Linked DNA regions of Homo sapiens: region 1 is linked to region 2. Evidence: fine-mapped expression QTL. Tissue or cell type: whole blood. Region 2 holds a variant in brackets; the other region holds the start of a gene. Each region is shown on its reference strand, or each on the opposite one.

What was found. PIP is the estimated chance that this variant, and not a neighbour inherited with it, causes the effect.
Region 1: OS9 starts here. The variant in region 2 is the best candidate, but not a certain one, in a credible set for the expression of OS9 in whole blood (TOPMed, PIP 0.81).

What each region holds. Positions count from the first base shown.
Region 1 is chr12:57,687,051-57,702,621 of GRCh38, forward strand. OS9 (OS9 endoplasmic reticulum lectin) reads left to right here and starts at 7,082. Exons shown (of 15, transcript NM_006812.4): 1 at 7,082-7,273; 2 at 7,700-7,876; 3 at 8,730-8,793; 4 at 8,912-8,988; 5 at 9,225-9,323. The coding sequence starts at 7,112. RefSeq lists enhancers at 6,711-7,285, 7,273-7,322.
Region 2 is chr16:3,859,992-3,875,562 of GRCh38, forward strand. The region is part of intron 1 of CREBBP (CREB binding lysine acetyltransferase); the gene reads right to left. Among named protein-coding and RNA genes, the nearest start is that of CREBBP, 13 kb to the right of the region's middle. RefSeq lists silencers at 1-80, 11,217-11,511, 12,417-12,711 and an enhancer at 12,048-12,583. The variant A/G (reference allele first, on the strand shown) is at 5,699.

The DNA of each region.
Region 1 (15,571 bases), not on the chromosome of region 2:
TTTGATCAATTAATTCAGTAAAGTTTCAGGATACAAAATAAATGTACAAAAATCAAGAGTGTTTGTATTCACTAATAATGTTCTAGCTGCAAATGAAATCAAGAAGGCAATCTCATTTACAATAGCTACCAAAAAATAAAATATCTAGGAATATATTAACCAAGGAAGTAAAAGGATTCTATAAGAAAAACTACAAAACATTGATGAAAGAAATTGTAGGTGACACAAACATCCCATGCTCACTGATTGGAAGAGTTAATATTGTTAAAATGACCATACTATCTAAAGCAATCTACAGATTCAGTGCAATCCCTATCAAAATATCAAGGTTACTTTTCACAGAATTAGAAAAAAAAATCCTAAAAAATTCATATGGAAAAAAAAACAGCCCAAATAGCCAGAACTTTCCTAAGCAAAATAAACAAAGCTGGAGGCATCACATTATCTGACTTGAAATTATACTACAAGGCTATAGTAAACAAAACAGCATGATATTCATTTAAAAATAGACACATAGATCAATGGAACAGAGTAGAGAACCCAGAAGTAGATGCACATATTTAGAGTCAAAATTTTTTTTTTATTGAGTCAGGGTCTCACTCTGTTGCTCAGGCTGCAGTGCAGTGGTGTGATCATGACTCACCGCAGCCTGGACCTCTTGGGCTTAAGCAATCCTCCTGCTTCACCTTTAGAGTAGCTCAGGACTACAGGCACACACCACCATACACAGCTAATTTTTTTAATTTTATTTTTTGTAGAGTCAGGGTCTCACTATGTTGCCCAGGCGGGTCTCAAACTCCTGGCCTCAAGTGATCCTTCTGCCTTAGCCTCCCAAAGTGTTGGAATTATAGGGATGAGCCACCATACCTGGCCTGATCTTTGACACAGTCGACAAGAACACACACTGGGCCAACCTGGGCAATATAGTGAGGCTCCATCTCTACAAAAAATTAATTTAAAAAATTATCTGGGAGTGGTGGCATGTGCCTGTAGTCCCAGCTACTCGGGAGACTGAGGTGGGGGAATAGCTTGAGCCCAGGAAGTCAAAGCTGCAGTGAGCCATGATTGTGCCACTGCACTCTAGCCTGGGCGACAATGCGAGACCCTGTCTCAAAAAATCAATAAATACACACAGGCACACACACAAGGGAAAGAATATCCTTTTCAACAAATGGTATAAACAGTGCTGGGGAAATTGGATTGCCATGTGCAGAAGAACGAAACTGGACCCCTATCTTTTACTACATGCGAAAATCAACTCAAGGTGGACTAAAGACTTAAATGTAAGATGTGAAACTATAAAAATACCAGCCAAAAACCTAGGGAAAACTCTTCTGGACATTGGCTTAGCAAAATAATTCATAACTAAGACCTCAAAAGCACAGGCAACAAAAAACAAAAATAGGCAAGTGGGACTTAATTAAACTACAAAGCTTCTGACTAGTAAAAGAAATAGTCAACAGAATGAACAGACAACGTGCAGAATGGGAGAAACTATTTGCAAAATACACATCCAACAAGGGTCTAATATCAGAATATAAAAGGAACTAAAATTCGACAAAAATCTCAGATAACCCCATTAAAAGTGAGCAAAGGATATGAATAGACATTTTTTTCCAAAAATACATACAAATGGCCAAGAAACATATGAAAAAATGCTCAACATCACTAATCATCAGAGAAATGCAAATTAAAACCACAATGAGACACCGTCTTACAACAGTCAGAATGGCTATTACTGAAAAGTCAAAAAATAACAGATGTTGGTGAGGACATGAAGAAAAGAGAACACTTAAACACTGTTGGTGGGAATGTAAATTAGTACAACTTCTATGGAAAACAGTATGGAGATTTCTCAAAGAACTAAAAAATAAAACTACCACTTGATTCCACAATCCCATTACTGGGTATCTACCCAAGGAAAAGAAATTACTACATCAAAAAGATACTGGCATTTGTACGTTTACTGCAATACTATTCACAATAGCAAAGATATGGAATCAACCTAAGTGTATATCAATGGACGACTGGTTAAAGAAAATGTGGTCTATATATACAATGAAATACTATTCAGCCATAAAAAAGAATGAAATCTGTCTTTTGCATAAACATGGATGGAATGGGAGACCATTATCTTAAGTGAAACAAGTCAGAAACAGAAAGACAAATGTTGCATGTTCTCACTTATAAGTGGGAGCTAAACAATGTGTACACATGGACATAGAGTGTGGAATAATAGACAATGGAGACTCAGAAGGATGATGGAGTTTGAGGGGGCTGGATGATGAGAAATTACTTAATGGGTACAATGCATATTGTTTGGGTAATGGATACCCTAAAAGCCCTGACTTCACCACTGCACAATCTATGCATCTAACAAAATTGCACTTGCATTCCACAAATTTATACAAAAATAATGTTGAATCAAAAAACATTATAGTTTGGTGGAACATAGAATTATAGGTTGGAAATAATTTCCCTAAAAAATTTGAAGATATTTTATATTATTTTCTAGCTCCCAATGTATTTTTTCTTTTTTAAGAGACAGGGTCTCACTCTGTCACCCAGGCTGGTGTGCAGTGGCGTGATCATGGCTGACTGCAGCCTTGACCTCCTGGGCTCAAGCAATACTCCCACCTCAGCCTCCCAAGAAGCTGGGATCACAGGCACTCGCTACCATGCCCTACTATTTTTTTTAAATTTTTTTTTGTAAAGATGCAGTCTCCCTATGTTGCCCTGGCTGGTCTCAAACTCTTGGGCTCAAGTGATCCTCCCATCTTGGCCTCCCAAAGTGCTGGGATTAGAGGAGTGAGCCACCACACTCATTCCTCCCAATGTTGATGAGTTTGTAAGCCCAATGCTGTTCTGATAAGGAATCAATTAAATACAATTAAAAATTTTATTTTTGTGTGGGCACACAGTGGTGTATATATGTATATATTTATGGGGTACATGAGATACTCTGATACAGACATGCAATAAGTAATAATCACATCATGAAAAATGGAGTATCCATCCCCTCAAGAATTTATCCTTTGTGTTACAAACAATCCGATTATACCCTTTTAGTTATTTTAAAATGTACAATTAAATTATTATTGACTATAGTCACCCTGTTATGCTATCACATACTAGGTCTTTTTCATTATTTCTATGTTTTATACCCATTAGCCATCCCCACTTCTCCTCAACCCCACACTACTCTTCCCAGCCTTTGGTAACCATCCTTCTACTCTCTATCTCCGTGAGTTCAACTGCTTTGGTTTTTAGCTCTCACAAATAAGTGAGAACATGCTAAGTTTGTCTTTCTGTGCCTGGCTTATTTCATATGACATAATGACCTCCAGTTTCATCCACGTTGTTGCGAGTTACAGGATCTCATTCTTTTTCATGGCTGAATAGTAAGTACTCCTATGTGTATACGTACTACATTTTTTTAAATCCATCTGTTGATGGACACTTAGTTTGCTTCCAAATTTTAGCTATTGTGAATGGTGCTGCAACAAAAATGGGAGTACAGATATCATTTCGATATACTGATTTCCTTTCTTTTGGGTATATACCCATCAGTGGGATTGCTGGATTGTATGGTAGCTCTATTTTTAGTTTTTTGAAGAAATTCCAAACTGTTCTCCATAGTGGTTGTACTAATTTACATTCACACCAACAGTGTACGAGGGTTCCATTTTCTCCACATCCTCTCCAACATTTGTTATTGCCTGTCTTTTGGATAAAAGCCATTTAAACTGGGGTAAGATGATATCTCATTGTAGTTTTGATTTGCATTTCTCTGATGATCAATTATGTTGAGTACCTTTTCATACACTTGTTTGCCATTTGTATGTCTTCTTTTGAGAAATGTCTATTCAGATCTTTTGCCCATTTTTAAATCAGATTATTAGATTTTTTTTTCTTTTGTTTGTGCTCCTTATATATTCTGGTTATTACTCCCTTGTCAGACAAGTAGTTTGCAAATATTTTCTCCCATTCTGTGGCTTGTCTCTTCACTTTGTTGTTTTCTTTGCTGTGCAGAAGCTTTTTAACTTGATGTGATCCTGTTTGTCCATTTTTGCTTTGGTTACCTGTGCTTGTGGGGTATCTCAAGAAATTTTGCCCAGGCCAATGTCCTGGAGAGGCTCCTCAATGTTTTCTTGTAGTAGTTTAATAGTTTCAGGTCATAGATTTAAGTCTTTTTTTTTTTTTTTTTTTTTTTTTTTTTTTTGAGACAGAGTCTCGCTCTGTCACCCAGGCTGGAGTGCAGTGGCGCGATCTCGGCTCACTGCAAGCTCGGCCTCCCAGGTTCATGCCATTCTCCTGCCTCAGCCTCCCGGATAGCTGGGACTACAGGTGCCTGCCACCACACCTGGCTAATGTTTTGTATTTTTAGTAGCGACAGGGTTTCACCGTGTTAGCCAGGATGGTCTCAATCTCCTGACCTCGTGATCCACCCACCTCGGCCTCCCAAAGTGCTGGGATTACAGGCATGAGCCATTGCGCCCAGCCAGATTTAAGTCTTTAAGCCATTTTGATTTGATTTTTATATATGGTAAGAGATAGGGGTCAAGTTTTATTCTTCTGCATAGGGATATCCAGTTTTCCCTGTATCATTTATTGAAGAAACTGTCTTTCCCCCAGTGTCTGTTCTTGGCACCTTTGTCAAAAATGAGTTCAATACAGATATATGGATTTGTTTCTGGATTCTGGATTCCATTCCATTGGTCTGTGTCTGTTTTTATGCCAGTACCATGCTGTTTTGATTATTATAGCTCTGCAGTATAATTTGAAGTCAGGTAATGTGATTCCTCCAGTTTTGTTCTTTTTGCTCAGGATAGCTTTGGCTATTCTAGGTCTTTTGTGGTTCCATTCTAGGTCTCTTAGGGTTGTTTTTTCTATTTCTGTTAAGAATGTCATTGGTATTTTGATAGGGATTGCATTGAATCTATAGATTGCTTTGGGTAGCAATGGTGTTCTGATTCTTAATCCTAATGTTATACTGATTTTTAAAAAATGTATTAACAAAGCAACAACATGAAGTCACATGTTCTGATTTTTTTTGTCTGTATATGCAACTTGTTCTTTCTCTCTGGAAGCTTTTAGAATTTTTTTCTCTGTGTCCAGTACTCTGAGATTCTATAATGATGTGTCTTGGTGTGGGTTTGATTTGTTGTTCTGGATACTTAGGGTGCCTGTTCAATTTGGAGACTGTTCTTCAGTTTGGGATAGTCCTTTTAAATAGTTTTTTTGATGATCTCTTCTGATTCTCTGTTCTCTTTCTGGAACTCTAATTTAGAACTCTTATTTAGTCCAGACCTTCTGGACTGATCCTTTATTTTTATGTTTTCTCCTAAAGCAGAACAAATTTGATCTTCTTCAACTTTATCCCCCAGCCTTTTTATAGAATTTTTATTTCTGTAACATGGTTTTAGTTTCCAAGAGCTCTTTTTGCTTATCCGAATAGTAGTTACTCTCAAGTAGTTTCCTGTTGTTATTTTATGAATGCTCTATAATATCTCTTTGAGAAGTCTGATGATGGATTATTTTTAAATGCTTTGTTGTTTCAGACGGAGTCTAGCTCTGTGGCCCAGGCTGGAATGCAGTGCCGCAATCTCAGCTCACTGCAACTTCCGCCTCCCAGGTTCAATCAATTCTTCTGCCTCAGCCTCCTGAGTAGCTGGAACTATAGGCGCGTGCCACCATGCCCAGCTAATTTTCGTATTTTTAGTAGATACGGGGTTTCACCACGTTAGCCAGGCTGGTCTTGAGCTCCTGACCTCAAGTGATCCGCCCGTCTCGGACTCCCACAGTTTTGGGATTACAGGCGTAAGCCACCGTGCCCGGCCTATTTTTAAATTTTTTATTTTTAGTGTTTTTTCCCCTCCCTTGCAATTTATGTTTCCTCTCATTTGCTTTTCCCTTCTTGTTTGTTTCTTACTTGTATATTAAAGTCCTTCCTTAAATGTCTAATGATCTCTGGCTATTTATTTTGAAGAGTAAGAACACTAAAAAGCTGATTGGAAAGTGGAATGAGGGCTGGGGCACGTAGGCCAAAGTGTTACATGTGGAATTCATTCTAGTTATCTATATCATTAAGAGAACTCTGATAAGGGTATCTTTGGGATTTTTCGTTTTGGCTGGTGAGATTCCCCAGAGAGGGTTTTCCAAAGGTATAATCAGCCTCTTGTTTACCTTTGTTTCGTAATAAATATTCTCAAGTTTGCTAAACCAGTTAACATTCTTCTGTTTGATTTCCAGCTTCCAAAATGTTGCTGTTGTTGTCTCCTTTCCCTTTCTTACGGCCTGGAGAGTAATACATAATTTCACCTTAACTGGAAGCCCATGTATGCATGTATGTATGTATGTATGTATGTATGTATGTATGTATGTATGTACGTACTTATTTGAGACGGGGTTTCGCTGTGTTGCGCAGGCTGCACTTGAACTCCTGGGCTCAGGAGATCCTCCTGCCTCAGCCTCCGGAGTAGCTGATACCACAGGTGCGTGCCACCACGTCTGGCTGCCCGCATTATTTCTCTAGGATTTTTACTGGAGGTCATTTTACTGGAGGTCAACTGCAGGATCGTATAGGAAGGTTTTGACACAAATTTTCTGATTGCCTCAAAGCAATATGTATATATGAAAAGAGGTAAGCGTCCGTATAATAATTGTTTGTTTTGCAACAAGCATTTAATAACTTTCACCGGCACTGCGCACGCTACCTATCTGCCTCAATACTCCGCCCGGCGGTGGGCAGGATATAATGCAAGAGACGTCTGAAAAAGCAATGAGATGCGCATGACAGCTGGGCGAAGACAGAGGGCAAACTTAAAAGGACCAAGCGCATAGACCACGCCTCTGAAATTGGGGAACGAGGAGGGGTTTGATCTTGTCGATGATTGGCTGGTCTCTGACCAATCACGGACAGCGATTGATATTTCTAATCGTCGTGATCCACCTCCCCAGGACCTTGGAGCCACGTTTACAAATAGGAATAGGGTACGTGGGAGGGATAGAACGTACAGCCAATAAAATCATGTGGCGCCGATGGGCGTGTTGAGGCCGCTGCCTGGCTTAGGGCGGAAACAGATTCTCTGCATAAGAAGGGGAACGAAAGATGGCGGCGGAAACGCTGCTGTCCAGTTTGTTAGGACTGCTGCTTCTGGGACTCCTGTTACCCGCAAGTCTGACCGGCGGTGTCGGGAGCCTGAACCTGGAGGAGCTGAGTGAGATGCGTTATGGGATCGAGATCCTGCCGTTGCCTGTCATGGGAGGGCAGGTGAGAGGCGTATAAGGGGCGAGGGTCTGGGCAGAAGAGGAAGCGGGTAAGAGATAGAGGAAGAAGGGCAGCTCCGGAGTCTGGGGCTGGAGCCTACGGGGAATCGGGAAGAGTAGGTATTGCTTTTACGGTGACCCCTGGGGGTCGCAGACTGAGACCAATTCTCTGGGGGCCAGGAATTGGGAGAGGTGGGGCTTCCCGCTGTCAACCTTCAGGTCTCAGTTTATGATCGAAACACCCGGACTCCGCCCCCGTGGAGAAATGGGAGCGCCCTCTCCTCTCACCCACTAAATACAGCTGGAGGGCTTATGGCTTATTCTGTCTTCGACTGATCTCTTCCCCAGGGTTTGAAGAGGGATTTCGTTGTTCTCCCTGATCCCAGCCTTTCTTTGCTTCCTTGCCCCCCGACCCTCCCTTCTTTCCCAGAGCCAATCTTCGGACGTGGTGATTGTCTCCTCTAAGTACAAACAGCGCTATGAGTGTCGCCTGCCAGCTGGAGCTATTCACTTCCAGCGTGAAAGGGAGGAGGAAACACCTGCTTACCAAGGGCCTGGGATCCCTGAGTTGTTGAGCCCAATGAGAGATGCTCCCTGCTTGCTGAAGGTGAAAGGGACTGGGTTAGATAGAATGAGGGCTTGGAAACTAGCAGTTCATCCAAGAACTGGAGTCCACTGAATGAGGCAGGATCTAGGGGACCTGTAGTGGTTAAGAAGACCACTGGAGGAGTAGACAGATTACACGGACAGGAAAGAAGCAAAGAATCCTGCAACCACTGATGACACTTTGCTGAACGTAGGAGCAGGTTAGGATAGAAGATCTCAGAAAAGGGCTAAAGCAAGATTGAGGGTCTGCGTGGGGTAGGAGGAGTACTTCCTTAAGCCTACTTGCTAAAGTCACCCCCTGCCCTATCACTCTGCTCCAGTATCCTGTTTTATTTTCATCGTAGCACTTTTCATGATCTGAAATCATATTTACTGAATCAGTTTGTTTATTTTCGGTCTGATTCCCCGCATTAGAGTGTAAACTCCATGAGGTCAAAGAATTAATCTTGTTCACAGTTGTATTCCCAGTGGCCAGAACAGTGCCAGGAATGTTCAAGAAGTTCAATTAATATTTAATTTTGGGTTCTTCTATGTTTCCCTAATATAATTGCTTCAGGGATACCATAATTTCTTATCTTTATGGAGGGCAAATAAGGATTTAAAAAATCTTTTAAAAGGGAGGAATGGAAAGACCACAAGTGGAAAACAGACTTTAGAGATATCTCTCCAAGTCACAGAAGGAAAGCAGCCCTCCCTCCTTACTGAAAGTCTGGAGAATTGAGAGTGGAAGTGAAGGGAAGAGAATTGAGTGTGTAAGTAGATGAGAGGTTATGTGTCTTGGAGCCAGGAGACTCTGGTTCCAAGAAAAGATGTCTGCACTCCATCCCCCTGATTGTTTATTTTTTAATTGTCAGACAAAGGACTGGTGGACATATGAATTCTGTTATGGACGCCACATCCAGCAATACCACATGGAAGGTAACTCACTCCTATATTTTCCTTAAGCCCTTAGTGTCATATCATGGAAGTTCCCCAGTTCCCTCCTCCTCCTCCTCCTCTTAAGAGTAACAGTGCTTCACTGTGGCTTCCCTTGCAGATTCAGAGATCAAAGGTGAAGTCCTCTATCTCGGCTACTACCAATCAGCCTTCGACTGGGATGATGAAACAGCCAAGGTGGCAAGAGTGTGGGATTCAGGAAGAAAGGGTTCTGGCCACCGGCTGAGAGCCCTGACAAGAAGGGGAGGGTCAAGATTAGCTGATCTGTTTCTTGGGGCTTGGTGGCCATTAGGACAAAGTTTCCTGGGGCCTGGGGGCACAGGCCATTCTTTTGTCTCTTTGGGGACGCAGTGCCATCCTTCCTCTTTGCTATCTTTCTCATGTCCCCCATTCCTGCCTCATGTCTTCTCCAGGCCTCCAAGCAGCATCGTCTTAAACGCTACCACAGCCAGACCTATGGCAATGGGTCCAAGTGCGACCTTAATGGGAGGCCCCGGGAGGCCGAGGTTCGGGTGAGTCTTGAGAGAGGGAAGTTGACACTCCCACAGGGACAGTTCAGATTCTAAGGGAAGAGGGTTGCATCTTATAGTCGGGGCGGGGGCGGGGGGGGTCCCCTCCCAGACCCTAAATCCAAAGTTTAAAACATATTTCCAGCCGGGCGCAGTGGCTTATGCCTGTAATCCCAGCACTTTGGGAGGCCGAGGCGGGCAGATCACCTGAGGTCAGGAGTTCAAGACCAGCCTGACCAATATGGTGAAACCCCATCTCTACTAAAAATACAAAAATTAGCCGGGCGTGGTAGCGGGTGCCTATAGGCCCAGCTACTCGGGAGGCTGAGACAGGAGAATTGCTTGAACCTGGGAGGCGGACGTTGCAGTGAGCCGAGGTCGTGCCACTGTGCTCCAACCTGGGTGACAGAGTGAGACTCTGTCTCAAAAAAGAAAAGAAAAAAAAAAACCCACATTATTTCCAGGCCGGGCACGGTGGCTCACGCCTGTAATCCCAGCACTAGATATCTCTCAAAACTCTCCTATGCTTTCTTGTGGTCGGTACCTTCACTCTCGCCTGCATCCCTGCAAACAGCTTCTTTACAAGTGCTTCTCATCTAGTGGTCCTTAGCTGAGTGGAGGCAGGCAAATATAGAATGCAAAAAGTTCCTTGGGTGATTCTCATGTATTCACAAATATACACACCTGTAAAGAATTACATGACACCTGCCAGAGTTATCTTTCCATAATGCAGATTTGTACCTGCAGTTGTGTGCTGGTAAGTGTTGGACCCCCAGATCTCTATGGGTGTGGGAGGGAAGCCCTGATCTGTAATGTTTGCCAATGCCTGTGGTATAAATACTCCCATGATGCGCAAGTCAAATGATGTCAACTGTCTTGCAACATTCTCCAAAACTTACCAGTTGGCTCCAACACACCTGTAAGTCTGCATCACTTCTCTGTTCAGTCCTGAAAAACCTTCAATGTTTCTGCCTTGCACAAAGGCTAAGAGCCAAATGTTTCAGCACAGACCAGGGTGGTGGCAGTGGAGGTGATGGGAAGTAGTTGGATTCTGGATATATTTTGAAGGTAGAGCCAATGAGATTTGTTGATGGTTTGGATGTGGGATAGAATCATGGATTACTTCAAGATTTTTGGCTTGAGCAACTGGAATGATGGAATTGTAATTTACTGAAGTGTGAAGGAACAGGTTTAGGGGAGGAAATTAGGTTGGTTTTGGATATTGAAGGTTGAGGTGCCTTTAGACATCCTAGTGGTGATGTCCAGTTGACAGTTGGCTCTGTGGTTCTGGAATTCAGGGACAAGGTCTGGGATAGAGATATAAGTACTCATTGTATTTCTGCCACACTGGCCTTTTTCTGTCCTTCGAACCAGTGGGTCTCATTGTTCCCTCTGCCTGGTGCAGTCTCCTGCAGATCTTTAAATGATTGGCCCCATCCCCTCATTCAGGTTATATTCAAGTGACAACTCCCAGGGAACCTAACATAAGCAAACACACACACACACACACACACACACACGGAACCTAACATAAGCAAACACACACACACACATACACACACACACACACACACACACACACACACACACACACACCCTATTGCTCCTGTCCTGGTAAGCATCCACAGTGTTTTGCATTCTTCAAAGCATGTATCATTACTTGAAATTATTGTATTTGTTTAATTCTGTCTTCCCTCACTAAGATAAGCTCTGGGAAGGCAGGGATGATGTCTATCTTGTTTTCTTATGTATCCACAGCTCCTGGAACAGTGCTTCACTCAAATAGGTACCTAGAAATTATTCATTGAATGAATGAAATGACTGACAAGCCAGTTCTAATATCACCTTTCTTGATTAACCCAGAAAATTAGTTAGTTGTGTTCCTTCACCACTTAATAATACAAGCATCCACACACGTATATAATCCGTTATAGCACTTCATTGTATTCTAGTTATTCGTTTGGGTGTTTGTATCTTCAGTAGGCCAAGAACTGAGGTCAAGACTGCATAGCTTCCTCATATCTGGTGAACATATGCCCTGTGCCAAGCACTAATAGAAACTAGGAACAAAAAGGTGGATGAGACCTAGTCCTGCTCTCAGGAGATATGTTAAATGAACAGCCACAACAAGCAGGATAAATGCCATGAGCAGTGAAGTGCAGCCCGCAGGGGAGCACACAGTCGGGACAGAGTCCAGGGTGAAAAGGAGGCCTCTTGGGAAAAGTGACCTTTGAACTGACATTGGAGGATGAGGAGTTAGACTAGCAGATGGAGAGGATGGTGGGGGGAATGAGAGGGCATTCCAAATGGAAGGTGCGCTAAGTGCAAAAGGCCTGGAGACAAGAGGCAATGGCCTATCCCAGGAACTGACAGATACTCACAGGGACTGAGGGGATAATCATGGGAAGAGGAGTGTAGGAGATGAGTCTGGGTGGTTGGTAGGGGACAGGTCATGAAGGGCTCTGTAGCTATGATGAGGAATTTAGACAATCCAAGAGACAATGGTTAGGGGAGGCAATGAGGTATTTGAAGCAGAATGATGACATATTCAGGTTTGGAATTGAAGGCCCACTCTAGCTGGAGTATAGCAAAGATTGAGAGCTCACTTAGGCAGCTGTGGTAATCCAGGTGTGAAATAAAAGTGGCCTGGGGATGAAGAAATGTGAATATTTAGAGACAGATTTAGGGGGTAAAATCAACAGAGTAAGAAGGAGTCAAGAATGATTTCCAGGCTTTTGGCTTGTGCAGTTAGATAGAGGGTGATTCGTGTTCCTGAGATAGGTATAATGAGAAGAGGAGTAGGTATGGTGAAGGAAAATGGTGAGTTTGGCTTTGAATATGATTTTAGTGGCTGCTAGGCATTCAAGTAGAGATTTCCAAGGGGGCTGTGGATCTCTGGGTCTGGAGTTCAGCAGAGAGATCTGAATTGAACCCAGAGGTGGGGAGTTGTCCTTGTATCAGCCATAACTGAAGCCAAGGTATGGATGAAATCCCCCAAAGAAAACAGTATCTAATGAGAAAAGTGGGATGGAACTTCAAGGAAGCCATCACTAAGAGCATGGGAAGAAGAGGGTTTTGCCAGAAGAAAGGGCCAGAGAGGAGGCTATGGTGACATGGAAACGAGGAAGGACACATTTGAAGGGGAAATTGGTCCATGGTGTTGGCTGTGCCTGAACCTTCAAGGAAGAGGAGGATTAAAAACTGCTTATAGGCAATCATAGTCATTATTATTTTAATAAAGGCAAAACATGTACATGGAAATAAAAAATTCAGACAGTAGAGAAGAGAGCCAGATGGAAAGTATAAATTCTCTACTTCCAGGCACCCCTGACCAGTCCTTTGGTTGGACTTAATGATAGAGATCATTGGTGATCTTTGCTGGGGCAATTTGAGCAGAGTTGTGAAGATGAGGTGTTGAGAAAAGTGGTGAAAAAGTGGAACTCTGCTGGGCGCGGTGGCTCATGCCTATAATCCCAGCACTTTGGGAGGCCAAGGCAGGCAAATCACTTGAGGTCAGGAGTTCAAGAACAGCCTGGCCAATATGGTGAAACCCCATGTCTACTAAAAATACAAAATTAGCCGGGTGTGGTGGTGGGCGCCTGTAATCCCAGCTACTCGGGAGGCTGAGGCAGGAGAATTGCTTGAACCCGGGAGGCGGAGGTCGCAGTGAGCTGATATCGCACCATTGCACTCCAGCCTGGGTGACAGAGTGAGACTGTCTCAAAAAAGAAAAAAAAGAAAAGAAAAAAAGAAAAAGAAACTGGAAATCTTTGAAGAAGTTTGGATATGAAAGGGAGATAAAAGGTAAGCATTAGTGAGAGGTGCTGGGGGGTTGAGAGAGGGGGCATTCTGTGGTTGGTGTGTGTTTTAAGATGGAACAGACTAGAACATGTTGAAGACTTGGGTGAATGTTAGTGGAGAGGAGGAGAGGGAAGTCAAGGTACAGTAGAGAGAATGTGAAAAGAATGTGGACAGGGATGGGATGCAGAACCCTGGGAGAGCAATTTGCCTCAAAAGGAAGGTCTAGGGTCGTAACTGGAATGGTGTATTTGCTAGTGAGTCTGGAGGTTTTGGTGGCAGAAAGTTGAGGCCATTCCTGTCTGGTTGCTTCTAGTTTTCAGTTCTTATGCCACTTGCCTAGGTGATCAGGTAAAGCCCCTACTCCAGGGCAGGCACTGTGATGTGTTGCTGGCCTGATGCCTCCTCAATAGGAACAGCGTGCATGTTGTTTAAAGTGCAGTCTCTGTGGGGCTAGGGAACAACTGGTTAGCTATATGGAATTAAATAAATTCCTATTTATTGGTGTGTGTTTTAAGATGCAACAGACTAGAACATGTTGAAGGCTGTTGGGTGGATGTTAGCGGAAAGGAGGAGAGGGAGATCAAGGTACAGTAGAAAAAGTGAGAAAAAAATGCGGACAGGGCTGGGATGCAGAACCCTGGGAGAGCAATTTGCCTCTAAAGGAAGGTCTAGGGTAGTAGACCAACTCAATTCTTATAAAGTAAGATTCTAGAGATATCAAAGATTTTTTTAAGTTATAAAACATACAATTATACAAAAAAAAATGTCATAGAGACCCATAAATTCACTGCCAAGTTAAACAGATGTTAATGTTTTGCCTGATTTGTTTCAGATCTCTGGTTTAAAAAAAGGAATAAAATGCTTGTGCTAATAGCTAAAGCCCACCTTCATATTTAGTCACTCTCCCTCCCGCCAGAAACAACCACAACCCTCACTATGTTTGTTTTGTATTTTTATTACTGATATATATATTACAGACAATAGATAGTGTTTTGTGTTTTAAAATTATACATCAGGAGTATCAACTTGTTTTTTTCACTGATCAGTGTGTTTGCCATTCAATGGCATGACATGGAACTCTGGTTGAGTGATTTTTTTTTTTTTTTTTTTTTTTTTTTTTTTGAGACAGAGTCTCGCTCTGTCACCCAGGCTGGAATACAGTAGTGCAATCTAGGCTCACTGCAACCTCGGCCTCCTGGGTTCAAGCGATTCTGCTGCCTCAGCCTCCTGAGTAGCTGGGACTATAGGTGCCCACCACCACGCCCAGTTAATTTTTATATTTTTAGTAGGGAAGGGGTTTCACCATGTTGGCCAGGCTGGTCTTGAACTCCTGACCTCAAGTGATCCACCCACCTTGGCCTCCCAAAGTGCTGGGATTACAGGTGTGAGCCACCGTGCCTGGCCTGGTTGAGTGATTTTAATGTCTGTATTGTGTTTCATTGCTTACTTACCCATTCCTCTGTTGATAAACAGTTGGGTTTCAACTCTAATGCCCTTATACACAGTGCTGCAATGTAGGTCTTATTGTGAGTGTACAAGAATTTCTCCAGGGAAATACCTAGAAAGTAGAATCACTGGGTTACAGGAGTGTATGTTATTGGTGAATTCAATTTTTTGTTTGTTTTGTTTTGTTTTGTTTTTTGAGATAGAGTTTCACTCTTGTTGCCCAGGCTGGAGTGCAATGGCGTGATCTTGGCTCACTGCAACCTCCGCCTCCCAGGATCAAGCGATTGTCCTGCCTCAGCCTCCTGAGTAGCTGGGACTACAGGCGCCTGCCACCATGCCCAGCTAATTTTTGTATTTTTAGTGGAGACGGGGTTTCACCATGTTGGCCAGGCTGGTCTTGAACTCCTTACATTGTGATCCGTCCACCTTGGCCTCCCAAAGTGCTGGGATTACAGGTGTGAGCCACCATGCCTGGCCCTCAATTTTTTTAATGATTGAAAAAATATATAACCTAAAAGTTATCATTCTAACAGTCTTTAAGTGTACAATTCAGTGGAAACATTCAGTGTTCTATCACCATCACTACTATTTCCAAAACTTTTTTCATCATCCCAAACAAAAATAACTCCTATTTCTCCCTCTCCCAGACTCTGTTCTACTTTCTGTCTGTATGAGTTTCCTGTTCTAGGTACTTCACATGAGTGAAATCATACAAGATTTGTCCTTTTGTGTCTGGCTTATTTCACTTAGCATGGTGTTTTCAAGGTTCATCCATGTTGTAGCATATATCAGAATTTTATTTCTTTTTATGGCTTAATCATGTTCCATTGTCTGTATATACATTTTGTTTACCTATTTATCAATGGATGGACAAATAGGTTTTCATCTTTTGGTTACTGTGAATAATGCTGCGATGAACATTGGTGTACAAGTATCTGTTTGAGTCCTGTTTTCAATTCTTTTGGGTCTGTACCTAGGAGTAGAATGTGCCTTATGGTAATTCT
Region 2 (15,571 bases):
AAACAACTTGGGGCTTGCAAATGGTGGGGGGCGGGGGCAGTCTTGAGGACTGAGCCCTCAACCGTGGGATCTGACACCATCTGCCTGTCAGCTGGCGTCTGCTGCAGCACCGAGTGCCTACTCGGTGTGTGTGTGTGGCTGGGGGCATCTCCACAAATCTGGTCCCAGAGGTGTTCTGTGTCGACTGTTGACACTGAGTATAGGAATAAAGGAGTATAGGAGAAACCTGATTTTTCCCTACATCCTCAGACTTGTACTATAGCCCTGACTACTCAAATGCTTCTATTAAATCTTTCAAAAGCTAAACATTTTTATTCACCTATTTACCTACCCTCGAAAAACTTCCAAAAGGAATTTTTTTTAAGAGATGGGGTCTGTGTTGCCCAGGCTGGAGTGCAGTGGCCATTCACAAGTGTGATCATGGCTCACTGTAGCCTCAAACTCCTAAACTCCTGGACTCAAGCAATCCTCCTGCCTCAGCCTCCCAAGTAGCCAAGACTGCTGGCATGTGCCACTGTGGCTCCAAAAAGAATTTTTAATTTCTAAGTTAACGGACACAGGAAGAGGTAATGCACATGTTAATTGGCTCAATTTAGCCAATCCACAATGTATAGATATTTCAAAACATCATGTTGTATATGATAAATACATACAATTTTTATTTGTTAATTAAAACAAAATTTGAAGGAAAAAAACTACATACAAAAAACTTGATCCAGCAAGGGCAAAGCATCCTGGAAAAGTTCACTCCTAGAGATGAGGAATCTAGAGAGTGGTGGAAGGATTCACAGTGTTGTTATTATTATTGTTAAATGACCTGGAGGCCACACTACGCTCTCGGTGTGTTTACTGATCTATTACTAATTAGACACTACGGACACAGGAAGTGCAGTCTGGTGTAGTGAGAAGAGTACTCAACCAAGCCCTGGTTCAGATCACAGCTGTCACCACAGCTACTGCCTCCCTGTGTACCCCTCCTTAGCTCTAAAATGGAAGGACAGCTGGGTGCAGTGGCTCATGCCTGTAATCCCAGCACTTTGGGAGGCAGACAGGTGGGTCACCTATGGTCAGGAGTTCGAAACCAGCCTAGCCAACATGGTGAAACCCTGTCTCTACTAAAAATACTGAAAATTACAAAAAATTAGCTGGGCGTGGTGGCAGGTGCCTATAACCCCAGCTACTCGGGAAGCTGAGGCAGGAGAATCACTGGGAGGTTGCAGTGAGCCGAGATCGCGCCATTGCACTCCAGCCTGGGCAACAAGGGCAAAACTCTGTCCCAAAAAAATAAATAAATAAAATAAAATAAAGGACAGTAGCACCTGCTTCGCAGGATCGTTGATGAAAGAATTAAACCATACAGCATTTAGCACTGAGCTTGGCATGCAGTAAGGACTCAAAAAATATTAGTCATTACTATCACTGTCCCAATCCCATCTCCCAAGGCACCTATGAGGGCTGAACCAGCCAAAGCCTTTAAGAACCTGGCACTCCAGGGTTGGTACAGAGCAGGCGCTCAACAGCCGCCACTTATCAATGGTAGTGACTTGCTAATAAACTCATCCCTGCTGATCTGTGGCAATTCTAGTAGAATTAAAGGTTACTTTGCTTTGAAAGTTCTTGGGGATTATGCAAATAAATATAATGGAACAACTCTCTATACCAAAAAAAAAAAAAAAAAAGAAAGAGAAAAGCTGTTTTATTAATATTTATGCCATCGTAAGTAATTTTTATCTAGGCATTTAAACAAGTTCCCAAAAGACATCTAACTTTTTTTTTTTTTTTTACAATGACTATTAGGAAATAATTAAAGCAACCTCCTTCTAAAATCTTCCGTAATTCAGGCTTCTTTTATGCAGACACACCAATCCCTAATTAGAACAGAACAATGAGGTTGTACTTCATTCTGAACAGTGATCTTATCTTGAGTAAGTCTTGCCCCTCCTCAGAATCACTGATCTGCTGAAGAGCCAGAGAGCTCGGCCGGCAGCCCCCACCCTCTCCTCCCCAGGAGAAGGAAGCGAGTCACTGCTCAGGGGCCCTCACTCGGTGCAGGACCGGCTGGGTTTGAGATAGAATAGAAGTCGGCCTCCCCAGAGGACTGTACTCTAATTGAGGAAGACAGCCAATGGACACCAAGCCACAAACTTAAATTAACACGTATGTCATATTTTACAGCCAAGTGGAATAAGGCAGTGAACAAAAGTAGGAAAGGCTTCAAATAAGAGGCTCTGAGCAGAAGTTTAGAGGAAAAGGACACTGACAACTCCAAAGAGGCAGGGACAGAAGACAGCAAGACAGGCAGGCAGAGATGGCTGCTCTGCTGTGGGGAACTTCAAGGGAAAAGCTCCAAGATGGCAGGAGCCCCAGGGTAGGTACAAGTTCCATACGGTGGGAAGGGCCTCACTACGGTAGGCAGGCTTGCTCTGTCGCCCAGGCTGGAGTGCAGTGACACAATCTCGGGTTATTAAATTTGGGTTTAATAAACCGAATTGTCTTAAAACCCTCAACACAGCACTTACATTTATACTAGAGCTTAGAATTTGGGTTTTCTTGTTTTCCTGTCATATGCTGTGTTTTGTATGATGAACGATATTTAAGTGGACATTAACAACGACCTTCCCCAAGAAGTCCATTCTTCATATACGACATTCTAGTGGGGTTCTTCCTACTGTATCAGATCCACATACCTACCAAAGTGACGCCCTTCCCACTGTATCGAATTCGTACCTACCGAGGGGCTCCTGCCATCTTGAAGTTTTTCCCTTGAAGCTCCCCACGGCAGAGCAGCCAGCTTTGCCTGCCTGCCTTGCTGTCTTCCGTCCCTGCCTCTTTGGAACTGTCTTTTCTCAGTGTCCTTTCCCTCTGAAGTTCTGCTCAGAGTTTGCCTCTTATTTGAAAGCTAAATTACAGGACAAATATTCTTCATGTCACAGAAGGGTCCATCCAGGGGGACTCTTTTACACGGAAATGTGCTTAGTAAGTTCATTTAACATGGAAACATGATGAACTTCAAAGTTTGAATTAAGGGGAAATAAATCAAGCTATGGTATCAGGTTAAACTAACTGCAATAAAAATTACAGAACCTTAGAAACTGTAATGTGAATCAGAAGGGAAATACTGATTTATCAAAATGCACTTAATACAATATTCAAGAGTGCTACCTGGAAAAGGTAAAATCTACTTTTGCATAATTGATTATAAAATTTTAGCTTTTTTATTCATTCTCAAATGCACTTGATGGCTGTACTCTGTATCAGGTATCAAAAAACATCCTGCTTCGCTGAATGATTACTATTTACCTTCCATTTAAAAAACCCAAGCAAGACAGGGCCAGGCACAGTAGCTCATGCCTGTAATTCCAGTATTTTAGGAAGCCCAGGCAGGAAGATCACCTGAGGTCAGGAGATCAAGACCCGTCTGGCCAACATGGTGAAACCTCATCTCTACTAAAAATACAAAAATTAGCTGAGCGTGGTGGTGGGTGCCTGTAATCCTAGCTACCTAGGAGGGTGACACCGGAGAATTGCTGAACTCGGGAGGCAGAGGCTACCGTGAGCCGAGATCGCGCCACTGCACTCCAGCCTGGGTGACAGAGCAAGATTCTGTCTCAAAACAAAAACAAAAACAAAAAACCCTAGACAGTCCTTATTCAAAGTTCTTTGTCACCTGGGACCCTAAACTGTCCTGGAAATGCAGCCAAGTCTATTTTTATTTGGTGCACTTAGCAGTCACAGGGAAGTGCCATTCCCAGACAGCCAAGACAACGTTAGTTTCCTCAACATGGTTTGCGTGCTGCTTCCCTCAGCCCTGAAGGGTGGGGACAAGGGTGGAATGGAAGGTGCCTGTCATAGCAGCCAGCTGCCACCAGAACACAGTAATGACCCAGCAGCCCCTGCACGTTAGCCCAATCATCTGGGACAGGGGAGCAAAAACGGGTTGTTTACCACCACCACAGCTGAGAGGGGCACCAGACCCCGGAGAGGTGCTACAGTCAGCTGCCTATCCACCCTGCTTACAGGGAGAGGATTCTCCAGCCAAGAACAGTCCTGGAGGAAGAAGAATGTGGGGGCTGAGCTAGGAGCTAGCCTTTGCAGAAGCAGCCCCAGACCCCAGATTCCCAGCCACCTCAGATTCCCCAGCCATATTGTAAGAACAAGCAAACAGACATCCAGAGACCAGGTCCTTTGCCCCAAATGCTGTGAGATGTAGCTGGCAGGCGGCAACAAGAAGTCAAGAAAGGGGGAAAGAGCATATTCCAGACGTGAAAGCAGACTTGGAAGTGCCAGTCCATGTACAACGCGTGGAGGCGTGTGGGCTATTTGAGAGCCACAAACAGAAAATGAATGCCTTAAGTCCAAAAAGTATGCCAGTACCAGGTATGTTGGCTCACACCTATAATCCTGGCACTTTGGGAAGCCGAGGCAGGGGGACTGCTTGGGTCCAGTAGTTCAAGACCAGCCTGGGCAACATAGCGAAACCCGGTCTCTACAAAAAAAAGTACAAAAATTAGCCAGGCATGGTGGCACATGCCCATAGTCCTAGCTGCTCAGGAGGCTGAGGTGGGAGGACTGCTTGAGCCCAGGAGATGGAGGCTACAGTGAGTCAAGATCACGTCACTGCACTCCATCCTGGGTGACAGAGTGAGACCCTGACTCAAAATAATAATAAAAAGGTACACCATAAAATGAGAGAATTCAGAAACAACTGAGAAGCACAACATGATGGAGAATCACAAGCTGAAGAACAACCTTAGTGTTACTCATCATAGACTATGCTGATAAAGAATATCCGTGGCTGGGCATGGTGGTTCACACCTGTAATCCCAGCACTGTGGGAGGCCAAGGCAGGCAGGTCACCTGAGGTCAGGCGTTCGAGGCCAGCCTGGCCAACATGGCAAAACCCCTCCTTTACTAAAAATACAAAAATTAGCGGGGCATGGTAGTGCATGCCTGTAATCCCAGGAGGCTGAGGCACCAGAATCACTTGAATCTGAGAGGTGGAGGCTGCAGTGAGCCAAGATCGTGCCAATGCACTCCAGCCTGGGCGACAAAGCAAGACTCTGTCTCAAAAAAAAAAAGAATATCTGCAACACATCTAGCAATGTATACCTGGAGAATATATGTGCTGCCTTTCACATTTTAAGACTCTACCAACACACAGGCTCTTGAAGGAAAATTTGCTATGATCAAAACTATAAATGCATATGCCTTTTAACCACTAATTCTATTTCTATGAATCTGTTCCATAGATTTGCCTGTCCGCATAACTTTACAAGGCTATTCATTAAAGCACTGTTTGTGAGAAGACAAGACTGGAAATAACCTAAATGTCCACCAGTGGGGAGAGGATTAAAGCAATTATGGCACAGGTCACATAATGGAATGGTAGACAACTGTAAGAAGACAATAAACGTATGCAGCTGTGTGTACACTATGCTACCTCAGTTAAGAAGAAAAAGGCAGGAAGGGGGAAGAGAGAACTAAGAGTCAACAGCGTCTGCCTGAATACAGATAAACCCTGGAAGACAGCACTACTTCCAGTGGTTACCTGGGAGGAGCTAGGTGGAGGGAGGCTCTCTCTACAGGTTTTGTCCTCTGAGTTTTCTGAGCCATGTGAATGAACTACTAGTTTAAGTAATTAAAGGAACTAATTTTTTTTTTTTTTGAGATGGAGTCTTGATCTGTCGCCCAGGCTGGA[A/G]TGTAGTGGCGCGACCTCAGCTCACTGCAACCTCCACCTTCTGGGTTCAAGCAATTCTCCTGCCTCAGCCTCCTGAGTGGCTGGGACTACAGGTGCACGCCATCACACCCGGCTAATTTTTGTATTTTAGTAGAGACGGGGTTTCACCATGTTGGCCAGGACGGTCTCGATATCCTGACCTCATGATCCATCAACTCAGCCTTCCAAAGTGCAGGGATTACAGGCGTGAGCCCACCGCGCCCGGCCAAGAAACTGATTTTTTTTTAAGGCACCCCCACTGGGGATATACTGGCCCAGGTGATTAACTTCAGCACCAGGTGGTAACACCTGGAATGGTTCCCAGTGCTCCAGTTTCCAGTTAGGGTCCTTATGATTTGAGGATAAAATGTGAAATGGGTTCACTATTAGTTCAAAATATATTTAGTGTACAAATAAGCTTAAAAGGCTAGAAAAGAAAAGGGCACTTTAAAGAAGAACTTTTCGAAAGTATTTTTTTCTAAAGGGATGTGACAATCGACATGTAACATTTTGTACCCAACGCTCACACAGGGAAATCTGACATTATTTCAAAATACTCAAAAATTAGTTGGCTGTCATGTCTTGTGGCTTCTAGCAAATCAATGAAGAAACCTCTAATATAAAGATGATGTTAAAAATGGAGCTTGTGACAAAGCAAGTGATGATCAGACGCCACACTAAAACACAATCCATTTTCCTATCTCTGGATGGCGCCTCTTAGGGGTAATTTGTACTTTGTTCAAATAATTCTCATTAGAGGTCTAAAGGTTTTGCAACAGGAATTAACTAAAACTTTGCTTCTCACCATTTAACAGATTCTCTTAATCACAAATATAAAAATAAAACAATACAAAAACATATATACCCCCAAAATGTTTTGTTTTGAATTTTTTTAACTAGTTTTTCTTTTTTCACTATGAAAGTAAATACATTTATGGTTTTTTGCTTTGTTTGAAAAAAAACCCTCAGAATATAAAATGAAAAACAGCCCCCAAAACATCTCTAGCTCAACCCCGAAAAACAATTTCTAGAGATTCCCTTCTAGAAATTTCCTACATACACCATTAGCATATCTTTCTACCCCTAAAAGAGATCTAATTATCATTTTTGCTCTCCATCCTTTGTTTATTGATTCTCAGTCTTTTCTCCCCTCCTAAGTACCCATCACTCTCCCTCAACTGGATCTGCAATGCCAGGGAACTCAGCTACTCTTCTGAAGGAACTTCACTGATTTTACCCTTTCTTTTCTAAAGGATTTCTGAGTCATACTCAGTGTTTTACAATCTCTACATTAATTAACTAAATTAACGAAAAGGTCTGGAGTTAATGAAAATGTTCTTAGAAGTCCTACCCATCAAGAAACTTTATCTGCTTGGTGTTGAAGTAGGTTGCTAACCTACAGATATTTCTATTTCAACTATTAAGGTGGGTAATAAAAACCAGAAGTTTTAAGAATCTATTCCAGGAATTGAGAAACAATAAACACAACTTCTGTGTGAGCTGGCTGCATGACATGCATTTTGATGACAGTAGCAAAACCTCTAATATTCTTTGAGATGACATGGAATTAATTTTAAAAAAACTTTAAGCCTAGGCAACATAGCAAGACCCTGTCTCTACAAAAATAATAAAAAATTATCTGGGCATGGTGGTGCGTGCCTGTAGTCCAAGCTACTGCGGAGGCTGAAGTGGGAGGATGGCTTGAGCCCAGGAGTTTGAGGCTAGAGTGAGCTATAATCTCACCACTGCACTTCAGCTTAAGTGACAGAGCAAGACTCCGTCTCAAACAAAAAACAAGAAAACTTCAATTATTCCTATTTATATAACATAGAGAAAACATTAAAATTGTTTTGTGTTATTTATCTAAATGCAGCACCAAAACATTTTACCGTTAAAAAAGAAGACTTAATTAATTAAAAGAAAGCCTGGGCCGAGCATAGTGGCTCACATCTGTAATCCCTAAACTTTGGGAGGCTGAGGTTGAAGGACTGCTTGAGCCCAGGAGCTCAAGACCAGCCTAGGCAACATAGGAAGACCCCGTATCTCTACTAAAAAAAAAAAAAAAAAAAAAATTAGCCAGGCATAGTGGCATGCACCTGTCATCCTAGCTACTTGGGAGGCTGAGGTGGGATTGCTTGAGCCCAGAAGGTGGACATTGCAGTGAGCTGTGATCAAATAAATGCACACCAGCCTGGCGGACAGAGTGAGACCCTGTCTCAAAATAAATAAAAATAAATTTAAAAAAATAGAACAAAGCCTGCATTTCTAATACTAACATTTCCAACAGCTCTGAGATATGTATCAGTCTGAAAGGCACTGATAGTAGAGTTACATAAAATGGGCTACTTAGGGCAAAAAGAGTAAGAAGAGACCATATTTGCCTGGCTACGCACAGTCCATCTCTAGAATACGTAAGAAACAGCTAACACTGGTTGCCTATGGGGAGGGGAATGACCAGTGACCCCAGAAACAGACAGGAGGAAGAGTTTTCACCAATTACTCTGCTTTTTTGGAATTCTGAACCATATGAATATATTATCTACTCACAAGAACTTAAAAAAACTTTTAAAAGAAAATTGTTTGTACAAAAATTTACTAACATCTTAAATAAGAACACTAGTTCCAGTTCTTAAGCTGCTTTTCATGGGGCCCTTTTCCTGCCAAAAACGGGGCTCAGGAGGGGAAAGCATTGTCTACTCTCCCTACAGACCTGAACTTGGATGAAAAAACACACCTTGAAAAAGCTAATCTAGACTTCTGGAAAATAAATCACAGGAGCTCCCCCAATCACTCTGGACACGGGTTTTTTAAAGCTTAATTTTGTTTTATAAGCCCTAAAAAAAAATAATAACCTGGACTCCTAGGTCTGACATTCAAGGCCCTTGGTGATGTTATCTCGCCTTCAGATGCCCAAGCTGATGCTCTACTCACCCTCAATGAGCTCTGGTGTCCTTCCTCCAACAAGCCTCCCTGACCACCCAGCCTGAGGCATCCACTTCCTTCCAGTCAGACATCGAGCTGAGTGTGAAATGCTATAGGCCACGGTGGGCACCACGGGACTGCTCACCCACCACACCACACAACTCAGAGTTCCATGAGGACAGAAGCAGCTTCTGCCACTACTGTCATCACCACAGCCCAGCAGGGTGCCCCACACGTAAAATGTGCTTAAATATTTGCTGAATAAAAGAATGAAGTGGTAGGAGTCAAGACTGGATCCCGGGCCGACCAACCCCCGCAGGGCAGAACCACACCTTTAGTCTCCACCATCTCAGAAGCAAAACCATGAGGCCTCCTAAATTCTGGTAGCCCAGTGAACATAACCCAAAAACTGTCACAAGAGCCAGACCTCCACCCTGCTATGAGTGCTGTTCCCTCTGCCTGGAACAGTACTATCTGCCATCTCCTATTCACCCTCAGGTGTCAGTGCTAACGTCACAGCCCCCGGGGACTTCCAATACCCTTCAAAACAGGCTCAGTCCCCATCTGGTGCCTCAGTCAATGCACAGTATGTCCCCTCCAAGGTCACACCTGACTGCAGTTACCTGTCCAGTATCCATCACCACCCATGAGGGCAGAGATGGGGCCTGTCACATCCCCACTGGATCGCCAGGGCCTACATCACAGCATAACAAATATTTTCTAAATTAGTGAATAATCCTGAACAGTGTGACCTAAGCCGTGAATATTTTTGAAGGAGTCTTTCATCATTTTTAATTTGGAGTCTTGCATCTTTAAAAGATGATCGTTTTAAAGGAACTTTGTCATAAATATCTAGGTGATACGTATCTTAAAGAAAACTCTAGACAAAGAGGATAAGTAAATGTACTTACAGTTGTGCTGTCCAATACCGTAGTGACTAACTACATGTGGCTATCTTCATTTACTCAAACCAGGTAACATTTAAAATTTAGTTCCTAAGTCACACTAATCACAATTCAAGTACTCAACAGCCACACGTGGCTCGTGGTTCCAGTACTGTGTCATATAGACACAGCGTAGAGCCGCCCTCCCAATAACGACCACTGGACAGCGCTGGCTTGGAGGGCATCCCGAGAACACAGGCATCCCCAAACAAGGAAACATCTCAATTCACCCTCTTCCTCCTGGGAAAGAATCCGTTCTCCCCTAAAGTTTCAGTGACTGAGAAAGCCATCAGTGAAAGCAAAACACTTGATTCTCTTGCCATCATTCAAATGATTCCCTCAGAGACTTCTCAACAGAAGTTCAACTACGGGCAGGTGTGCTCTTCAAACAAAAACCGATTCCCACAGTAGTAGAGGAACAACCACAATGACACAGAAAACCTATCAATATGTTATGTCTTTTTGTTATTTTCAATAAAGGTGACGTTCTGAATATGTAAATCAGATTTAAGTAAAGATATCCACAAATCGGGGAAAAATTTTGTCCACCACGGGGTAACTTTTACTTATAAAAAAAAAAAATCACACCAAATCTAGGAGAACAGAAAAACAGTAATCTCCATTAAAAGAATTTCCTACTATAGAATCTGCAGGAGGAGAAAAGTCACACAGTACAGCACAGAGCTGAATCTGTTCCTTTCAAGATCTGTGTAGCTGAGCCCGAGAGGCAATTGAGTTTCACTGGTATTCCTTTCAACCAACCTGACTAAACTGGACAGTGATCCCAAGGCCATTTTCTTCCCAACTCTGTTTTCAATAAAATACTATATTTATAATTTCTCTGCATTTACTTTTCCCTTTTCTCTAAGTCCTAATCTAAATCAAGCCCTTGTTCTGAAGCAATAACTAGAAACAGAGTTCCATTTAATTAAGAGTTCAATTTTCCAATAAAAAACAGTTGAACTGCAAACACAGACGGAGTAAAATGAGTCAAACGATTACCCATTTTGTAAGATTCTCGAATCTTAGTTCGTTTTCTTACAAACTGGTTCCCAAACTGCACTAGAGCTGGCACTGAAAGCCAAACAGGCAGGGGCAGAAGCTTCCCATGTATTCAGTGAGAAGCCTCCTGATTCCGGGTCAGGCTACATCATCTTAGTCCTCACTGGCCCAAGAAGTAGGTGATGGCTAATATTTTCCCATACAATTAAACAATAAAAACAGCTGCCTCAACCTGCTATATGCCAGGCACCCTAGTAGCCCCATGTACCAAGATAATCAAAGTAAGCAGAAGTAGAGCCAGGCACAGTGGCTCCATCTCACACCTGTAATTCCAGCTACTCAGGAGGCCGAGGCAGGATTGCTGAAGGATGGGAGTTCAAGACCAGCTTGGGCAAGCAAGACCCCATTGGAAAGAAGAAAAGTAATGTAAAGAAGGGGAGGGGAAGGGGAAGGGGAAGGAAGGAAAAGAAAGAAAGAGAAAAAAAGAAGGAAGGAAGGAAGGAAAAGAGAAAGAAAGAAAGAAAAAAGAAAGAAAGAAGAGAGAAGAGAAAGAAAAGAAACAAATGGAATACTGCAGGGTAAAAAGCCCCTTTTAGAGATCTCTCTCTCTCTCTCTCTCTCACTCACACACACACACACACACACACACACACACACACCCCACCCTGCAAAACTCAAATGTGATGTCACCAGCCCAAGTCACAGCGCTGCCGAGCTGGGAGCTGGGACTCACAGTCTACTCTGAGCAGGAGCCAGGGCTCCCTCCTCAGCACCACACTGACCGCCTCCCCGTATAAAAAGCTGACATTTCCTTCAACTGTGACTCACAGTTAGAAGGTTCTACTTTTAATCAGGTGACAAATACTCAAAATATTTTAATCCAAAGCAACTGGGTCAAACTCGTAGAGTCTATAATTGTCTAAGCAAACCCTAATTACCTGATAAATTTCTATAGCTCCTGAATGTCCTCATTCAGTTTGTAATCAAATACCCAAATCTCCTTATTTAAATGTTGTACAAGCCTTCTCTACATGTTATCATACAGAACAGTGACTTATTTTTCTATTTCACTGGTTATTTTAACCATAAAGTTAAAACATGTTTAGGTGGTGCAGTTTTAATAAGAAAAATCCAAACTAGGGGGAGGAGAAGCAGCTTGTGAATTATAAAAAGATTTGCTTTACAACAGAATTGTACAACTCCACTACACAACTACTTTTTCTCCTTACCACAGATTATGCAAATTCGAAAGGTTGAATTAGGTGCAACTGGAAAATATACCTACTGTATACAATATAGTACAGGCATATTAGAAAGGCAAATTAAGACATTTTCAAACAATAGCAGACAGTACAACTAGAAATGGGAAAGTAAAGTCAGATTTAATCATGTAGAATTATTTTCCCCATTAGATTTTACTATTCTTAGCAATGGTTCAACTAAACAGTCTTTTGATTAATGGAAATGAAACACCGGGGAAAATGTCACACGGGATAATATCCAAATCTTTCTTAAGGGTAAGTTTTAAAAGGAATTCAACTTTTAGAGACAGAGCTCAAAAATAGCCTTGCTTCCTAAATTTAGAACCAGAAAACACCCTAAAGGCAGTATTTTAAATACAGCCACAGTCACCGCCTATATTGTCTAGGAACTTAATAAAAAAAACTTTAAAAAGAGAGGGGCCACTTTTGTTTACTTCCATGCCTTTCACACAGCCTTGCCCAATTTGATTTGTGTGCCCTTGCTCAAATCTCTTCAAGTCACAGCTCAAATGGCAAAGACCTGACCACTCCAGGACGCCCCGGGGACTCTGCTCGTGGCCTATTGTAGCACCCCTGTCAGCAGAGCACGGCCCCAGGGAAAGGAGAACAGGCAAAAGCCCCCACAGGCACTGCTCCCAAGGCTTACACTTCTGCATCAAAGACTCATGCAATAGGAGAATTTTGCCGAAAGCCAAGTTTGAGCCTGACTGAGAAGAGCAGCATCCTTTTCCAGTTAAAGCAAGGAGTGTATCCGGAGGGATGCACTGCAAGGAAAAGACCTCAGAGAGGACTAAAGGGAACGCTGAGCGCATGTGCTAAAAAGCAGACGGCACGGCCAGGAGCTTCAGAGCCTAGGAGAGACGGGACAACCAGAAGAGGACTCAGATGTGAGCAAGCCATGGGCCTACAACGATACCCCAGGAAACAAACTGTCATGGTCAGGGTGCTTTTCCCAACAACCAGGAATGCATGGAAAACAGGCAGGCTTCCCCAACTCCTGGCTCTGTGCTGGCTCAGCAGAAGAGCTGTCACAGGAGCCCAAGGCTCCTCAACCATCCCAGGGCCTGCCTCCCACTGGGGCATGCGGCCCTGGACTTCTGCACACGGGGACACTCAGGAAACAGGGGAGGGAGTAAATGAAGCCTTATTCAGATCACCCTTTCTGGTTCCAGAGTTTTTGCACTTGACTGCATTTCTGTACCCTTTCCTTAAGTTTTGCCTCGAGGTTTCATCTTCTCAAGATGGTTCTAAGTACTCACAGGCATCTATCAGAATCCTGTGTACACTGCTAATGCTTAACAGGTACCTCAAGATAAATTATACACAGTAAACAAACAGAATCACATACTTGTCTGCTGCTTAAACAGTCCATGAAATATGCTTCAAAATTATCAATAATTTTCAGTGTACATCCTGATTTGATTTAAAAGAAAAAATAATTCAGAACACACACCATTTAAGTTTTCGTAATTTTAAGCTTTCATGGCCATCACGTTCCTATTTTTAAAAATACAATAAAAAATGGAGACAGAGTCAATGGTATAGATGACAGAATTCCCGGCTATGTATCTGCTGAGGTGCTACACTATCACACGCGTGCCTGCACACTGGTTTCTGTGGATACGAGCACACATGGCTTCTGTCCTTTCCAGAACTGCTGAGAAACAGGTCTTGCTCCAATCAGACTAGCACTCCCAGTAAGTCCTAGGACTTACAAGGTACGACAACGTCCCTGGTTAACGCTAGTGTCAGTTCCCATTGGGCGGATATGCCAGACACACATCATCTCAGGCTACCCTCATAACCACCCTGAGATGGGAATTGTTATTATCTCCATGTTACAGATGAGGAAACTCTGAGCTCAGAGAGCTGATGTAACTTGCCCCAAACATGCTCTGGCCTCAGCACTCCTAAGGCCAGCTGGTTTGGTGGCCGGGTGGGAGCCCATGGGTACGGAACTCGGAAGCAAATAACAGACCCAATTAGAAGATAGGTGGCAATCTGCTTGAAAGTAAAACCTTAACAAGAAAATGATAAGAACTTTAAGGGACAAATACTATATAATTCTTTCACTAATTCCCTCAAATATTTCCTGAGGGCCTACTATGTGTCAGGCACTGCCCCTGGGGAGGGAAGTGCTGGGAAGAGGGCCGTGGAAAGGCTCTGGAGTTCTTACTGACGCTCACCTTCTGGTGTCACAGGAAGGGGAGCAAGCCTAGAGCCTGAGATGACAAAGACGGACGAGAAATGCCATGTGGGCCACTGGGGTCAACAAAAAGCAAAAGAACAAAGAAAAATGCAACCGGTCACCAGGCTTTCTGATAAATTCGTCTGATTTTAAATCAAGTCATCCATATAACTGTTACAGAGGAACAAAAAAGACAGAGAGAGAGGGCCCTGCTAAGCTCTGAAGTGCTCCAAGACAGGAGACCCAAGCTAGCCTGCTGCTCACCTGGGCTCTCCCGGGCTCCACATCATGCAGCTCAGAAAACTTGCCCTGCTGCTGTTTTCCTTAAAGCTGTCTGTGCAGCCGTGGTAGGCCAGTGCTCCCCAACGGGTGCTCAGAGAATGAAGTCCCACGTTATATCAGTCACCAAATTGCAGCCCATGGGCGAAGTCCTCAGATGCCAGTCTTTACAACTAGAGTTTTACTGGAACACAGCCAGGCCCACTCGCCTATGGCTACTTTCTTGCTGAAATGGCAGCCTTGAGTAGTTGCAACAAGAGACCATATGGCTCAGAAAGCCAAATGCGTGCTCTCTGGCCCTTTGCAGAGGAAGTCTGCGGACCCATAATAGGCTAAAAAGAGTTCTAGCGTCAAACAGGATTGAGAGTGGTCCAACTGTAGCCCCTCTCTCACAGTGCCCAATCAGGACACCAAGGCTCTGGGAAAGTCTGCAGTCAAATTCCTCAGCTACAAGCAACAGCATCTGAGCACAAACCATTTGTTGAGAAATACCTCTTAGCATGCCCTCTAGTTTCTTGGAATACATGTGAAGAGCTGGTTTGAGTAAGGTAAAGAGGGGTGCCCTCACTAATGGGACCCCAAAAACTAAACTGACAAGCTTTTGCAATCTTCAGAAACTCACAATAAGGTACATTTCATCTTAACTAAGGTAAGACACACTTTGGCAAAATCATTTTCCTAACTGTTTTCAAATACATCAAGTAAAAACACAAGTCAGCAATTATGGACCCCCCAGGTAATCACATACTTTGCCACACAATTACAACACACTACTTAGAAGCTGTGAAAACACAGGCGACTAATCTAAGCATCAACTTCCAACTGCAGGACTCAGTCTCTTTGTAAGTTATGTTCAATTCTGTTTACAGAATCAAATCTGAATGTTCAGCCAGGAGCGACTTTCCATCTTCTGAAGGCCCTCTAAGGCGCCCTGCACATGACTTGTCCTTGCCTACCTTCATCCCTGACGACCTTTGAATGGGGCCACCGCTCTCACCCCTCTCAGTTATTCAAAAACGAAGCACGGTCATGAAATGTCCTAGTCCTAAAAGTCTCTATGACAACTTTTATTCCTACTTAGCCAGAACTCACTGATGGGGTAACATAACCGTTTCTCATTCTCCCTGAGGTAAACAGGAACACGAGCCCACACACGTCACGCTGAGGATAACACCAGAACCAGAGGGAAAAGGGGGACGCCCTAACCCAGGAGGAAGAATACACTCCTGGCTGCCCCCACCACAGGTGGTTACAAACC